2 linked regions of the Homo sapiens genome follow. The protein of the gene in region 2 purifies or fractionates together with the protein of the main gene of each other region. This does not show direct contact. Each region holds a gene or a part of one and is shown on either strand. Other genes may lie near its edges.

The links. Proteins that work in one complex are often made in the same cells at the same time.
Region 1: the proteins of MUC20 (region 2) and ZNG1A purify together in Homo sapiens (affinity purification with mass spectrometry; 2 studies listed by BioGRID and IntAct, with this or other methods). This does not show direct contact.

Annotation. Positions count from the first base shown.
Region 1 is NC_000009.12:151,477-155,130, reverse strand, and holds part of ZNG1A (zinc-regulated GTPase metalloprotein activator 1A), read left to right. Parts: intron 1-335; coding exon 336-422; intron 423-3,052; coding exon 3,053-3,097; intron 3,098-3,654. UniProt on the Homo sapiens protein: Zinc chaperone that directly transfers zinc cofactor to target metalloproteins, thereby activating them.
Region 2 is NC_000003.12:195,723,880-195,727,533, reverse strand, and holds part of MUC20 (mucin-20 isoform a precursor), read right to left. Parts: intron 2,855-3,654; coding exon 962-2,854; intron 1-961. UniProt on the Homo sapiens protein: May regulate MET signaling cascade. Seems to decrease hepatocyte growth factor (HGF)-induced transient MAPK activation. Blocks GRB2 recruitment to MET thus suppressing the GRB2-RAS pathway. Inhibits HGF-induced proliferation of MMP1 and MMP9 expression.

The sequences.
Region 1 (3,654 bases), on a different chromosome or scaffold from region 2:
TTTAAAATCATCCTTTTGATTGTAAACTTTTTGAGACTTATCTTTGTAGCACAAGAGTAGCAAGTAACAGAACTTAGTAAATACTTTGCGAATGGGTAATGTGAAATCTGAACTTGCATAGTAATGAACACAATTCATCCACATTGAAAAATTAGCGGATTAGGAGTAAACTGAGTCACTCCTATAGAGCACTAGATAATTCTTAACTGATATATTGATCTACATGAGGCGTTTTTATTTATTTTTGATTTGTTAACATTCCTCTTTTGATGTATTAATCTGCATGCGTGTATATTATTTAAAGTTTCTTAACATTTCTCTGTTTGCTATTTTAGACAAGTTGCTTTGGCAGATGCCATTCTCATTAATAAAACAGACCTGGTTCCAGAAGAAGATGTAAAGAAATTAAGAACGACAATTAGGTACGAAATGATAAGTGTGTTAAGTGCCTACAGATCCATGTTGTATACACAGAATATTTTTTACTCTGATTGTTGCCCTGTAGAAACTTAAGGTATAAGGTTGAGCTGCTTCAAGAACGTTAGGGAATCACATATATTGTTGATGGCTAATTGTTATATAAATGGTAATACATAAAATTAGTCCCCAGTGCTTGCAGAATATAGTTCACAGTTAATAGACTGATATTCAGGGTCTTCGCACTCCATCTTTCTTTTCCTGTCTTCTCTTTGACTCTTTCCTAATGTCAGTCTTCCCTAACTTTACCCAGGATGGTTAATTCACTTTCCCATGGATGCATCCTGTCAGTTCCTGTCTTTACTCGTAATGTATTCTCACTCTGCCAATCCCTGAGTTCTTTCTTGTTCTGCTTTTTTTTTTTTTAATTTATTCTATAGAGCCTATTCTGTCTCTCCCCCCTTCCTATGTGAAGTCTTCCCTGACTCAAGTGGTCTCAGTTTTCCCTGAACTCTTGTTGACTTCATCTTCCTTAACTGTCAACCATGCCTTGTCTTCCAGCTTGCTTTAATATCTTCTTTGTCCATAGCCAAGGCTGATCAGCATAGGACAATCAGGACAATATGAATGATGCTCAAATATGTGCTAACAGTCATTTTGCTGACTGTTCTGGAGACTCCCATTCCTTTTGAAAACAAAGATGGGCTTTTCAAATGAGGTTATAGTTCAGGGGCTTTGTTTTGAATTATTTTGTAAGACCTGAACTAATAAAAGCCCTATACAGAGAGACATTCGGTAGCTATTAGTATTGGTTATCTTTAATGTGTACAATGCTTTGAGCGTGATGGCTCAAAATTACTATTCTTAGTATTTATAAGTTCTACTGACATTAGATTTTGAATCTGTCATCTCAGTTCATATAGTATATATTATCAATTGAATCAATAAAGGTAAGGCTCATTAGGAGATTATTTGCCATGATTAATGATTGTGGAAGAAAGAAATTCATATTTTTTCCACATATTTCATCTTATTTTAATAGTAATGTCCTTAAACTTTACTATAAAAAAATATAATGTCTCCACGTGGAGGGTAGGTATTGTTGCGTAGTGTTGAAGATCACAGACCTTGGAATCTGCTTGGGTTCTAATCCTTGGTCTGTTTCTCATTGTCTTCTTAGGGAGCTTATTTACCCTTTTAAAGCCTCCTCTGTAAAAGGCATAATGCCTATCATAAGTTTGCTTTGAGTATTACATGAGACAATGTTGGTAAACTTTGCACAGTGCTGACACATAGTAAGTGCTCTGTTAGCTATTATTATGTAATTTTTTTCTTAGCTTACATAGTAAGTTCAAGGTATAGTAAAAAAGGGAAGAAAGAAAAAGATGGCTGATTTTGAAAAGGAGAAAGTGATGAATGAAGATTGCTTTTACATTTTTTGACACTGGTCTTCTAATCTTGTTTCTCTTCATAAATCTTGTGCACCATTGTGATTGCTAAGAAGAACACAATCTATTTAGCAAATGTTTTTGGCATAAAAGGAATGATAATTATTACTTGACTTTTATATCCTTATAGAGACCTAAGCTAAATCTCTGACACTGACAATATTGACTATTAGCCAGCTTGTTAACAGTACTAGAAATGAATTTGGAAGAAGCAATTTGATAAATTACACACCCTTTTGGCTTTTACCCTCCCTTTATATCAGACTTGTGACTGACTCAGAATGATATTTGGGGAGGTGAAAAAAGGTAAACATGTTTGAGAGGAATTAGCCATCAGACTAGAGTGTATTCAAAAAAGAAGATTTAAGAATTTTGTAAAATAGTGGAGAGACTTGCCTCAGAATCATTATATGTGGGAAGCCTTACCCATGAGAACAAACTTGAACAAGTAGCAAGAATCTTGGGTAAGTAACCCTAAAGACAATTGAATTCATGATAGAGAATTGATGATTGATGATAGGCAATGGAAAAGATAAATAGATGAGGTGTACAGTGTGTTGAAAAGAATTTAACAGGTACTTTTTGGTGCCATACGAAGCCATATTCTATAGTATCAAAAGAGGGAGAACAGGCATAACGGGTAGAGAGCCTAATTAGGTAACTGACGAGGTTATTCTATAAAGGAACCTGGGATGTGTGACTTAGAATTACTGTGAATACTAAGGACAGGCTGGGGGCAAAGCAACTTGCAACTAGGTTTTTATTTTTAGTGTGTATATAGCCATTTCTACCATGTATGCCTGAGGAAAAAAGTGACCACCGTAAAAATTTTGAGTATCTACTCATTTTTAAGAACACTAGGATAACTGACTATTTATGAATGATTTTTTCTAAAGTGAAGTGTCTTTTTATTAACCACAAAGTAGCCCTTAATCTGACAGTTGTGCGAATTTTTGCATATATGTTTTATTAATGTATGAGTGGAATATATGTGATTTATTGTTTGAAGGAAAATCACAATTATTTTTTAAAGCAAGTTTTGTTTTTCTGTTTTTAATTTTTTTCTGGTTCCAGATGTATTTGGGTATGCTTATTTCCTGTTTTAGAAACAATATACTTTGTATACTTTTTTAAAAAGTTAATTTTTACTTTTAAACTTTGTCTTCCTCATTTATTATTTATTTCAGATCCATAAATGGACTAGGACAAATCTTAGAAACACAAAGATCAAGGTACTTTAAAAAAGCTATTCCTATTAATAACAAATCATTTTAGTTATTAATAATAAACATTAAATAATTGACAAATATGCTTGATTCTAATATAAGAAAGATCTAAGTGCATTTAAAAAGAATTGGATCCAAAATGTTGTTTGGAATGCTCTTAATAAGTTAGTTTGGCATATTTGGCTAGTACATTTGCCTGTCTTCAAAACTAAGAATACAAAGCCATGATAACACTGTGTAAGTGTTTGCTTAATGAGGAAGAAAAGACTTCCAAACACTCGAGAGGGTAACTCAGTACAGAAATCTGAAGTATATTGAGGAATCTTAATTTGAAGTGTTTAAATGGCTTTTTAATATTTAAAAAGCCTTCTTAGTGTTTTATAGTTGCCAAAAAATACATGGAGTCTTTACCTTGAAGTTCCTGACAAATTCTTTTATTAAATTTTGACTTTCATTTTCTCTAGGTTCTGTTCCTAAAACATCTGTGAAGTGTATTTCTGTAGATTAAATTCTGTTTTCCATTGAATGTTATCTTAATTTCAGAAAATTTCTGTGCAGGGTTA
Region 2 (3,654 bases):
AGGAAGTGGAGGTGGAGGCTACAGGCTGACCAGAAGCTGGACTGACCAAGCAGCCTCTGACAATGAACTTCTCCCCTGAGAAGTCCCTGTTGCCTCAGAGATGTAGCTTTAAACTCCCAAGCCTTCGCTGTATTTGCTTATTTTATCTTACCTTTTTTTTTTGAGACGGAGTTTCACTCCGTCTCAGCTCACTGTAACCTCCACCTCCCGGGTTCAAGTGATTCTCCTGCCTCAGTCTCCCAAGTAGCTGGGATTACAGGCGCCCACCACTGCGCCCAGCTAATTTTCATATTTTTAGTAGAGATGGGGTTTCACCATGTTGGTCAGCCTGGTCTCGAACTCCTGACCTCAGGTGATCCGCCGGCCTCTGCCTCCCAAAGTGCTGGGATTACAGGCATAAGCCACCGCTCCAGGCCTGTATTAATTTATTTTAAGTCACTATCTATGGCATAAATCCCAGGAAATGCATCCAGCAGGCCCCACTTTCATGGGGTCCCAGCCTGTCAGAGAGCAGCAGCTTGGGCCTGATGCCTGCCTGCTGCTCCTCTGTGTGGCTATGGCTGGAATAGAAGCTTCCAGAGCTGCTCAACAGTGCACTTCACAGAAGGTCAGAGCTGGACAGGACTTCAGTGCCCATTCCAACCCTCTCCAAATACAGGTGGAGAAACTGAGGCCCAGAGAGGGACAGGGACTTGCCCAAGGTCACTCGGGTTGTTACAGGCAGAGCCGAGACCGCAAACCATTTCTCCGGACTTCCATCCCCACCCCTTTCCATACACAACCCTCCATCTGCCTTTTCCTGATTTCGCCAAGAACCACTAGAAGATCACGAAGAGGCAACATCAGGAGCAGGCTCTGAGTAGGCTCCAGATCCTTCCCTCCTCTCCACTCCTCAAGTGCGGAGACGTCCTGGAAACTCCGCATCCCAAATCCCCGAAGATCACCAGCAGGAGCCACTTACCTGCACTCACGTCTGTGGTCGGCCTCGTCCGGGCAGTCGTGGGCGTGGCTGTTGGGGGCTTCATCGTGGTCTTCGCTGAGGTTGTGATCTTGGCTAAGGTGCTGTTCGTCCCTCGGCTGCTGTTGGTTGTAGTCGGAGGGACAGAAGGAAGAGGGTCCCTGCTGGTGGGGAAGGGCCCCTTGGTTGCGATGTCCATGGTCGGTGTCTCTGAAGGGGTGAAGTTCTTGAGGGCGGCTTCCGAGGGGCTGTAGGAGGAAGCAGAGCTCCCAGCAAAGGAAGTTGTTTTGCCCACTGCTGACCCAGCCTCTATGGAGACCGGAGCTGCTCCTGAGACTTTGACGTAACTTGGTGTCTCAACAGAGAGGGCTGAGGTTTCTTCAAGGGGATTCCTGCTAACTGTGACCAGAGCTCCACTGAGGGTCGTGGCCCCGGGTGCTGTCACTTCTCTTTCTGTGGCGCTGTTAGTGGGGAGTGGGGTCCCAACCGTGGCATCAGGTGCAGCTGACTCTGTGGTGCCGGCTGTGGACAGGGTCTCGGCAGAGGCTGTGACCTCAGTGATGTGTGGTTTTGCTTCAGTGGAGTCAGGCAGAGCTGGTGGATCGGAGGTGGACGAGGCCTTCACCCCTTCCGTGGGGATGAGATCTGTGTCTGAGGCCCCAGGGATGCTGGAAGTCGTTGTTTCTATTTCTGTGATGCTGCAATTAATAACCTCGATGTTTGTGACAGTCACCAGGGCTTCAGCGAGGAGAGTGACGTCAGATCCCGGGGACCATGAGGGGGTGATGACTGGATGGGGGCCGTCGGAAGAGGCGCTGCTCTCTGAGGCCCGTGACGGGGTGATGACTGGATGGGGGCCGTCGGAAGAGGCGCTGCTCTCTGAGGCCCGTGACGGGGTGATGACTGGATGGAGGCCGTCGGAAGAGGCGCTGCTCTCTGAGGCCCGTGACGGGGTGATGACTGGATGGGGGCCGTCGGAAGAGGCGCTGCTCTCTGAGGCCCGTGACGGGGTGATGACTGGATGGGGGCCGTCGGAAGAGGCGCTGCTCTCTGAGGCCCGTGACGGGGTGATGACTGGATGGGGGCCGTCGGAAGAGGCGCTGCTCTCTGAGGCCCGTGACGGGGTGATGACTGGATGGGGGCCGTCGGAAGAGGCGCTGCTCTCTGAGGCCCGTGACGGGGTGATGACTGGATGGGGGCCGTCGGAAGAGGCGCTGCTCTCTGAGGCCCGTGACGGGGTGATGACTGGATGGGGGCCGTCGGAAGAGGCGCTGCTCTCTGAGGCCCGTGACGGGGTGATGACTGGATGGGGGCCGTCGGAAGAGGCGCTGCTCTCTGAGGCCCGTGACGGGGTGATGACTGGATGGGGGCCGTCGGAAGAGGCGCTGCTCTCTGAGGCCCGTGACGGGGTGATGACTGGATGGGGGCTGTCGGAAGAGGCGCTGCTCTCTGAGGACAGGCCCTTAGCTTCTGTGGAGGTGTGAGCCAATGTCAATATGTCCATTGTGAGTGTCTTTGCCTCTTCAGAGCTGTCATCGGTGCAAAGGGTGTCAAAGATGGCTTCCCTGGGATCACTGCCTGTGATGGTCTGAACTGTGGTCATTCCAGCTCCCTCGGGGCTGCCACTGGCGGCTGATGTCTCCACGGAGGTGGCGATCAGCACCATGAAGTTGGGAGATGTTTTTGTGAAACTCCTGGTCTCTCTTGCAGGGGAAATTCTCTTGGCTCCCCTGGTCTCTGCTTCTGGAATGGGGCCGGCTGGGGTTGAGGCCCTAGAAGAGGTCTCAGCGCTCAGCGTTTGAGTTTCCAGAGCGGCGTGGCCCGGTGCTAGAGTCATAGCGGGCACTTCTGTGTCGTCCGTTGTCATCGCAGTGTCTGCTCTGCGGGTGCTGGGGCCTGTGTTGGTTAAGACTGACTTGGTGAGCCTGGGTTCCAGTGGACTTCACACAAGCTATTGCGTTTACACCCTGGGCACTTCTGGGAGGAGGGTGGGGCAGGGGAGTGCCGTTACCTCATTTTTCATCTACATAAGCGAACAAGAAGGAGGCAGTCCTGGGAAGCCCAGGCCTGTGTGGCAGCCATGGAGCTGGGGTTGCCATGACTGGTGTCCTCTGAAACCCTGACAACTCACTTGGGGCCAGCAAGCCCCAGGATCTGCTGGCTATCGGCCTGCGTCTTTAAGAGGGGATGTGTGGGGCCAGCGTCCACCTTCCAGGGTGAGCCAAGAAGGCAGACCAGCGTCCAGGACTCGCAGAGCTTTCTGAACCTCTGTCCCCTTCCCCGGATACTTTTCTCATCCAACACATAGTTCCCCATGGAAGTAAAAACCCTTAAAAGACGAGAAAGGCCTATGATTGTGCCTTTCGGGGTAGCTGGGTGGATTGAGGCGGGGGAACCTCCAGAGACAGGGTGGGCAGTGCTGCTGCCAAAGCGAGGGAGCCGGCAGAGTCCTTGGGGCTCCAGCAAGGGAAAGACGGCACCCCCCACCCTGCCGAGGCCCCTCCTGAATGAGGGCTGAGAACTGCAGGGTTGGAGCCTGGGAACCATGGAAACCGTGGCCAGGCATTTTCCACAGGACACCGGGAGACCCTGAGGCAACACCTAGCTTTTCAGAGAGCGGCTGCCAGCACTTCTGCCCAGAGCAGAGGCCTGTTCCCTTGACTGGCCCTGAGGTGGGAGGAATGGGAGTCCCCGAG